Regions from separate parts of the Homo sapiens genome. Here region 1 is linked to region 2. The links come from fine-mapping of genetic effects on gene expression. A gene starts in region 2. The other region holds a variant in brackets. All regions are shown on one strand. Distances are from middle to middle. Region 1 overlaps GCOM1 (GCOM1, MYZAP-POLR2M combined locus). Region 2 holds the start of POLR2M (RNA polymerase II subunit M).

Evidence for each region. PIP is the estimated chance that this variant, and not a neighbour inherited with it, causes the effect. A credible set is the group of variants that fine-mapping cannot tell apart.
Region 1: its variant is the best candidate, but not a certain one, in a credible set for the expression of POLR2M in whole blood (INTERVAL, PIP 0.61).

What each region holds. Positions count from the first base shown.
Region 1 is chr15:57,683,110-57,687,510 of GRCh38, forward strand. GCOM1 (GCOM1, MYZAP-POLR2M combined locus) reads left to right here. Exons shown (of 17, transcript NR_104371.3): 12 at 1,293-1,565. MYZAP (myocardial zonula adherens protein) reads left to right here. Exons shown (of 13, transcript NM_001018100.5): 13 at 1,293-2,255. The coding sequence ends at 1,389. Among named protein-coding and RNA genes, the nearest start is that of POLR2M, 21 kb to the right of the region's middle. The variant CG/C (reference allele first, on the strand shown) is at 2,776.
Region 2 is chr15:57,704,433-57,708,833 of GRCh38, forward strand. It overlaps POLR2M (RNA polymerase II subunit M), which reads left to right and starts at 2,282. Exons shown (of 4, transcript NM_015532.5): 1 at 2,282-2,523; 2 at 4,282-4,401. The coding sequence starts at 2,411. It overlaps GCOM1 (GCOM1, MYZAP-POLR2M combined locus), which reads left to right. Exons shown (of 17, transcript NR_104371.3): 14 at 1,502-1,940; 15 at 4,282-4,401. RefSeq lists an enhancer at 2,177-2,396 and a silencer at 2,717-2,766.

The DNA.
Region 1 (4,401 bases), 21 kb before region 2:
TTACCACCCTTGCCTGAGGAGGCAGGGGAGAAAGCTGGGGAAGATAACAAGTTGGGGAGCTGTAGCTATGGGCCCTGGTAGAGGGATGCCGCCAACTACCAAGCTGCAGCCTGGCTGGGAAAGGAAAAATGTCCCGACCTCTTTGTCCTCTCATTCCCTGATCCCCTGCTACCACCTTGCAGTAGGCCAAAAGGAACTGAATTTGAAGGGCAAATGGATGCTGACTTTTCCGGGCCACAGAGTAGGGTGGAGAAGGGGCAGAGTAGGGCTGAATGGCAAAAGAAGAATGCCCAGCACAGCTGTTATGTCTCTGTTATAGTTCCTAACACAGTACATGAAAATTTTTTATGTACATATCTTTCCCACCAGGTGACAAGTCCCTTGAATGCATGTTTCATATTTTTCTGAACCATGGATGCCTAGTACAACCTTTACAGGTTGTTAAAAATAACTTTTTTATTTTTAACCTGTCGTAGTCTGTTCTGGCTGCCATAACAAAGTACCATAAACTAGTTAGCTTATAAACAACAGAAATTTTTTTCTCACAGTTCTGAAGGCTGGGATGTCTAAGACCAAGGTGCCAGCAGATCCAGTGTTTGGCAAGGACTTGCTTTCTGGTTCATGTATAGTGTCTTCTTGCTATGTCCTCACATAGCAGAAGGGATGATGATGAATATTTCTGGGGCCTCTCTTTTTTTTTTTGAGATGGAATTTAGCTCTTGTTGCCCAGGCTGGAGTGCAGTGGCATGAACTTGGCTTACTGCAACCTCTGCCTCCCGGGTTCAAGCAGTTCTTCTGCCTCAGCCTCCTGAGTAGCTGGGATTACAGGCATGTGCCATCATGCCCAGCTAATTTTGTATTTTTAGTAGAGACAGAGTTTCTCCATGTTGGTCAGGCTGGTCACGAACTCCCGACTTCAGGTGATCCCCCTGCCTCGGCCTTCCAAAGTGCTGGGATTACAGGCGTGAGCCACCACGCTGGGCCTGGGGCCTCTCTCATAAGGCCACTAATCCCATTCATGAGGGCTCCACCCTCATGACCTAATCACCTCCCAAAGTCCCCACCTCCTAATACATCACCTTAGGGGTTAGGATTTCAAAATATGAATTTGGGAAAACGTAAAGTCCATTGCAGGGCCTGTTTGTAATATTTAAGTGAAATATTAAGCTGCATTATTGTCTTTTTATTTTTAAACACTTAAACACCATTTTCTAGAGTTGTCTTACCATGTGAAGCATATGGGGGGTTTTGTTTTGTTTCATTTTCCTGACCTGCATTTTCTCATTTCTCAGCCAAACAGGCAGGACTCGTGAAATTGTGATGCCTTCTAGGAACTACACCCCATACACAAGAGTCCTGGAGTTAACCATGAAGAAAACTCTGACTTAGGCACTCAGAGGCATACACTTTTTACAGATGGACAAAAGCTCTGGAACCCTGTGGCTTCAAATCCTTTGGGAAGGGTGACTGTTGTTTCCCCTACACACAGTGTAAGCCGGAATGGGAATCGCTGAGGCTCTGATCCACTTCTAAGACAGGAAGGAAAGTGAAGGCAGAGTGAGCAGGTAAGAGAGGGATATACAAGGTCACATTTCAGACACCCACTCGGCATACCCTGCCGTACTGCATCATCATTTGTTTTCTTTGTAGACACTGAAATCCTATCAGGAGGATTCCTTCACAATGTATTTTATTTGCTAGACTTTGGTTGGGAGGGAAAAGGACATTAATTTGAAGTTTCATGTTATTCATGCCAGGATTGTTTGATAGAGCATGAAGGTTTTGTTTACCCATAAAAGTATTAGAGGCAGCGTTTCTCTGATACAGAGAGGCCTGTCCACAAGAAGCATGGGCACCCAGCCAAACTTGAACCTGGAAGGGAGGGTTCCCGGCCTGCAGGTGCTCTTTCCTCTTGGTCCCAAGCATCTGTGCAGGGTCGTGGGAGCCACACTGAGAGACTTGTGTGGGCCAGACAAGCTTCATTCTGATGCGCTAGTCCCTTGGTTTAATTTGTGCCTTATGCTTTCATTGGACCAGCTGAAATCACTGTATTTATTCAACTAGTGATTTTTTTTTCTTTCTCACTTTAACTTAAAGAGAATTTTATATGTCTTGGAAATTTAATAATTTAGTGTTCTCAGTATCAATTGGTGTTTTTGTTAAACGAATGAATCATCTGTTCATGCATGCTCTACTTTGATATTATAACCTATGTCACATGTGTTTAATAAATACCATATATTTTGTTCTACTAATGTTGTCTCTCTGTTTCATCCATGACCATGTAGAAGGGGCAGAGAGCAGATCAGGCTCTGGAATGAGTGTCAAAGTCAAATCACATGATCTTCCAGCCAGTACAATTCATACAAGCATCTGTAAACCATAAGATTGACTGTGTGTGTCGGGGGAGGGTGGGGGGCCTATCTGTCTTTTTAATTGCTGAACTTTAGTTAATACACCATGTGGAAAAAGCAAGATACCTTAATGATCACAAAGTACAAAAATAGATTTTACTTTTAAACCTTTCCTCAAACCTCCCACCCCTTACTGTCTCCACTTCCAAAAAACCAAAGAAATAAAAAAGTAAGAAAGCAAAGCAACTCAGTTAGATAAATCACTGTGAGTCAGAATCATGCTAAGAGGAAAATGTGCATTTGGGAGCCACATTTGTATTTAAACACTGTCCGTGGGACCTTGGGCGAGTCGTCAAGGCTCTCTGAATATTAGTTTCATCCTTTAAAAACCTCGGATTATCACACCTACTTGATAGGCTGA[CG/C]TGAGTGCCACATGAGGTCATTCCCACATAGGGAGTGGGCACTGCTAGGCACACAGGCAGTGATTGCTGTCATTCTGGAGGTTTTAGAGCACTGCTGATTGCTGGTTGAGTCTCACCACTGGAGGTATTCTAGCAGCAAAAAACCGTGTTCTGTGGCAGCCACCAAGAAGGAGCACTTAGAGAAAAAGCTGTCCTTAGGACCAGGAGATAGGGAAGCTGGACTCAGAGAGAGGCAGAGGGTTCTGGGAGCCCATCCCCCTGAAGAAACTGGTCTGGAAGCAGTTTCTAAGTGAAATGCAATGACTTAAAAAATGTCAATTTTAATGAGACCAAGGTAGAAATGAAAACTACTCTGCCAATACTTCCACATTCACTTCTTTCTCTCTCTCTTAAAACAAGCAAGGAAAAGAAAAACTTAGTAATTTTAAATTTAAAGGATACCAGGGACCATTCTGCAGCTCGGGCCTTTGTATTTTAAAATATATCTTCAACATATGGAAAATTCTAAACATGATTTGAACTACTCAAGAAGACTATTAAAGAGAGTTCCTAAATTGTACAGACTGAAACCGAAAGAAGCTGAGAGATAATCCTTCCAGATCCTTTGTCAACATTGACTCTAGTGCCCCCCAACCCTCCATCTAAAGGACTGACATTCATCAACCTCTTCATGAGCAGGGGTATTACATAAAATTGGGAGAATGAACTCTAACATTTCATAGTAAATTTATCTCACTGAAATGGAAAGCAGCAGTGTATGTAAAGGGTTTTTAAAAAATAAAACAACATCCTATAATCTTCCAATTAATATCTTCATTCCAGACCTTCCAGAATTTTAAAACACACCCGCTCCATTTTGTTTTTAAAATAAATATAACCCTATACTGAGAAGTGGAATCATGTGATTTTTAAGAACGTGGGAACACTCGAGTCAGCTATCTGAGCTTAGTCACTAGTGCGCATGTGGGTAAGTCACAACCCTGTCTGAGGGCCTGTAAAATTGGAACTGTGAGAGTTCTTTCCTAATGGGGTTGGTGTGAAGAGTAAATGAGTTAATGCCTGCATGGTTCTTAGAATAGTGCTTGGCACATGATAAGCACTTAATATATGCTACCTATTAACATTACATACTTTTGTAGCCACTTTTTGCTTACTTTATATATATATAAATATATATATACACACACTTTATATAGTTTGCTTTATATATATACTTTATATATAGTAAGTTTGCTTACTTTATATATATACATATAATATATATTTTTGCTTATTTTATATGTATATATACTTTATATATGCATATAATATATATGTATACAATATACATAATATATATTATACACATATATGTATACAATATACACATATATTATACACATATATGTATACAATATACACATATATATTATATAATATATGTGTACAATATACACATATATATTATATATAATATATGTGTACAATATACACATATATATTATATATAATATATGTGTACAATATACACATATATATTATATATAATATGTGTGTACAATATACACATATATATAATATGTGTGTACAATATACACATATATATAATATGTGTGTACAATATACACATATATATGTGTGTACAA
Region 2 (4,401 bases):
TACAATTGGCAAGGGGAGAAGAGATAGCCTTCCACAAAAGGGTAACAGAAGGGGGCAAAATTCTGAGGCCTAAAAGAAAGGCATCCTTGCCTTGGGGACACCTGTGGCCTACAATCAGCACATGGGGAGTTCACTACTGTGGGAGAAATAAAGGCCTCCAGCTGGGGTCCAGGGGTGGGGTGAGGGAGGCTTGCGGGGTGCTTATCACTGTAAACCAAAAATAAAATTTGAAGGTCCGCCCTCAACCGTCTGAATGGACTTCCTCCTGTAGTCCAGGGTCCTCCAAATTTAACCTAAAAGACTGGCTTAGGCCATGATGGGAAGCTGAGGTCAGACATGCCTCATTATGCCCTTCTTTCTTTTAGAATCCAGGAAAAGCTACACAGCATTTAATATCAACACATATACCTTGAGTCTGATAAGAAACACAACTTACTTTCTCTGAAGCCTGCTAACTGGAGGCTTCATCTGCATGATAAAATTTCGGTCTCCACAAGTTCTTATGCTAACCTAGACATTCCTTTAAATCAATTACCAATCAGAAAAAAACTTAAATTTACCTATAACTTGGGAGCCCATCTTGCCCCACACCCGCTCTGCTTTGAGTTGTCCCACCTTTGTGGATTAAGCCAATGTTTATCTTAAATGTATTTGATTGATGTCTCATGTCTCCCTAAAATGTATAAAACCAAGCTGTGCACCAACCACCTTAGGCACGTGTTCTCAGGATCTCCTGAGGGCTGTGTCACGGGCCATGGTCACTCATATTTGGCACAGAATACATCTCTTCAACATTTTACGGAGTCTTTTTTTTTTTTTTTTGTCAGTACCACAGACAACCACCTGACTCGAGGACCTTACCTATTTCTCATTCAGCCAATGCTGCAGCACGTTATTAACGTCCTTGAAAGCAAGTCTTATACAGAGAAAACTTATTTTGATATATTAATGAATCTGATCAGAATGGACCAGATTGGGGGGATAGATAAATGGTTGCAATTGTGCTCCCTGGAATAGCTTTGGAGTTTACCTAGATCTTCTGTCTCTTTAGGACAGAGCTGCTTGTGTTTATATAGCATCTTACACAGGATTGAGACAACTTCAATTTCCTATATCAAAAAATCGGGGGAGGGCGGTGGGTTATGGGGGTGTTCAAACCTCCCAAGTGACATCTGCTGTGACTGCATGTCTTCCTACTCTTTCCACTGGGATGCACCTCTGGTAGCTGAACTATAACGAGAAGGTAAAAGCTGTGTCCAATACCTATTAAGCTGCCTTCTTCTCAACAGCTGGGGAGGTGGCGGGGGTGGGGGGGGGCGGAGGGAAGTCTTTTCAACAGTTTTACACATTTGGAAATAGGCCTAAAGTGAAGAAGGGGATTTTCAAATTGGTGTGTTGGAAAAGGGGCTGGGCTTTTGAGTTTGAAATCTGGTGCTGTCACTTACTGGTTTTGTGCCCTGGGAATATTTATTTCAGTTTTCATGCCTCTGTTTTTCTATAGGCAAAGTAGAAAATTCGAAAAGGTCCTCAACGAGTTTGTACAGCTGCTCCCACTCCCTCATCACCTCTTGTGGGCCTTTGGAAATGTATGTTGGAGGAGACATTTTGGATTGTTGCAATGACTTGGGAGTGCCATAGCACCTAGCAGGCAGAAGCCAGAAACACCAAATGTCTTAACAATGCTTGAGGCGGTGCTACAAATGAAGTCCTTCTCCAAATGCATTGAGCCCCAAGAAAAATCGCTGATTCTGAGGAACCTTCCAACTTTAACAATTTCAGGACGTCCCTAAGCTGAGCTAGGAGGCACCACGCACAGGCCGGAGGCACCACGCACAGGCCAGAGTCTCCCAAATCCTGTCCCGCACTCTCTCCCACCTTATTAATGGCCAGCTCATCTTTCAAGTTTCGACTTGAACCACTTCTCAGAGATATCTTCCCAGGTGCCCATCCCAACGTTACTATTATATCATAATTTGATTCTCCCTCCCCCCATCCCCCCGCCAACTCTGTAAACCCCAAGTATAACACAGGACGTTGCTATTTGTTGACTGACACATAGTGCTTGGTGAGGTCACGCTGGCGCTGAATACTTTTTGTATAAACCGACGAACAGCTGATGACCGCATGAATGCTCACACAAGGGGAAAGGGCGCCAAGCCAAGGAGCCGGCGTCATCCGACGTAACTTCCGCCCTTTAACGCTCCTGCGGACGCCCCCTTCTCCCAGTCCGTGTTTGTTTCCGGAATTTCAATAAAGCTCGATTCGGCTCGAAGAAGACCCCGTTCTTCCGGGAAAATGGCGACTCCCGCTCGTGCCCCGGAGTCACCGCCGTCCGCGGATCCGGCGCTAGTAGCGGGGCCTGCCGAGGAAGCCGAGTGCCCGCCGCCGCGCCAGCCTCAGCCCGCGCAGAATGTGCTCGCTGCCCCGCGGCTTCGAGCCCCAAGCTCCCGAGGACTTGGCGCAGCGGAGTTTGGTGGAGCTGCGGGAAATGTTGAAGCGCCAGGAGAGACTTTTGCGCAACGAGTAAGCTGGGGTCCCGCGGAGTCTCCGCCAGGCTCCTTCAGCTCGAGCTCCCTGGGCGCTCCCCTCCCCTCCCGCACTCTGTTCCCTTCCCTGGAAGGTGACTTTGACTCAGTCACATTCGCTTCAGTCCTACGGGCGAGTGGACGGAGGGCTTGCTGCGGCAGAGCCGTGCCTCTTCCTGGCCAGGCACGTATGCCTGCGAGGATAGCTCGGATTGAACGGCTACCTGGCGTTGCAGGGAGTTAGTAGCCCCTGGTCGGTTTTATTTACCCGGGGACTGTGGTGGTTCCATGAGTCTGCTTTCTAAACCCTTTTGTCGCCCGCACCCCTAACCCATAACAGATTGTCAGCTTCATCTCTGGATTCTAAGCTTACAGGAACCGTAGGAAATGGGAAGAGTGGGATATGAAGAGGGGTTTATTAGGCCGGGAAAGTTCGACCCTCATTCAGCTGGCTGGTTGAACGGATTTTAGCAAGGGAGCCACGTAATAAAAGTGATTTTGTTTTTTAGGCAGCTTTGTTCAGCAGCTTGTTGCAAAAGATGGTTTGAAGGAATAAAAAGCAGAAGACAGTAGAAGGATATTTTCAGAGAGACTTCCCACGAGACACTTGTAAGAAAGTGAGCTAGGAAGGGATTGGGAGAACTTTTAAGCATGGACTAATTTAAATGCAGTTGACAGAGATGGCTGAAGTTTCCAATCTATATGGAAGACCACTAGCAAAAATAGGAAAATTCAGGGAGAGGAATAGATCCAAGGTTGATTTTACTTAGGGTGTGCAGAGTTGAGAGGAGAGCAGGACAGACATTTGGTTAATCGAAAACCAAACACTTAAAAGCTGGAGAAGTAGTCATGAGGCTCAAGAAAGAGAGAACCCTGGAAAAATACAGAAAACAGGAATTTCAGCTGTAGAGTGTTGTTAATAGTTGAAATTGTGGGGATGAATGTAGTGTCAAAAAGAACAGAGGACTTAAGGTGTAATTTTTTCTTTCCATTTATTGTATAGTTAAAGAAAAGGGAATCAGAAAAGGAACTCTGTCATCCAGCAAAAGGGACAAATAAATAATTGGTTGGGATCAAGACATGTGTTTTGACCTTGTGAGAATAGGTTTTGAATGTATAGCAGTGAATTAACTTTTTGGTCTCAGGACTCCGTTATACTTTAAGAATTATTGACATCCCAAAGAGCTATTTTATGTGTTGTATCTAGCGAAATGTATTTACTTATCAGAAATACGTCTGAAGTCTTTAAAACATAAGCATACACAAGCACACATTCTATTCTAGAACAATGATGTCATCACATGCCATGTAGCCTCTGGAAAACTCCACTGTACCCATGCGAGAAAATGAGAGGGAAATAATATCTTAGTATTATTATGAAAGTAGTTTTGACCTAATAGGCCCATCCCCACACTCCACCCCATCCCCAAATTTTGGAGATTGCACTTTAATGACTGCTGGTTCTTGGAATGTCTTATGTGATTATTATATGCTTAAAATACTTTTGCTGAAATTCTAATTTGCTGAGACAAATGAGGCATATATTCCCTATTCTTCCTGCATTCCCTTGTTTTTTGGGCTATTTGGATAATGACCATTTTAATTGTTTTATTCTTGTTTTGGGGCAGTTAGAAATCAGATATTTGACTTAAAAATCAGCTTTTCTTTCTTTGAAGATAATGCCTTGCCTTTTTAATGTTATATCTCAAGTTAAAAAAATGGCTGTAATGTAATAGTATTCTTTTCCATTTGACAGAAAATTCATTTGCAAATTGCCCGACAAAGGTAAAAAGATCTTTGACTCTTTTGCCAAACTGAAAGCTGCCATTGCAGAATGTGAAGAAGTTAGAAGAAAAAGTGAACTGTTTAACCCTGT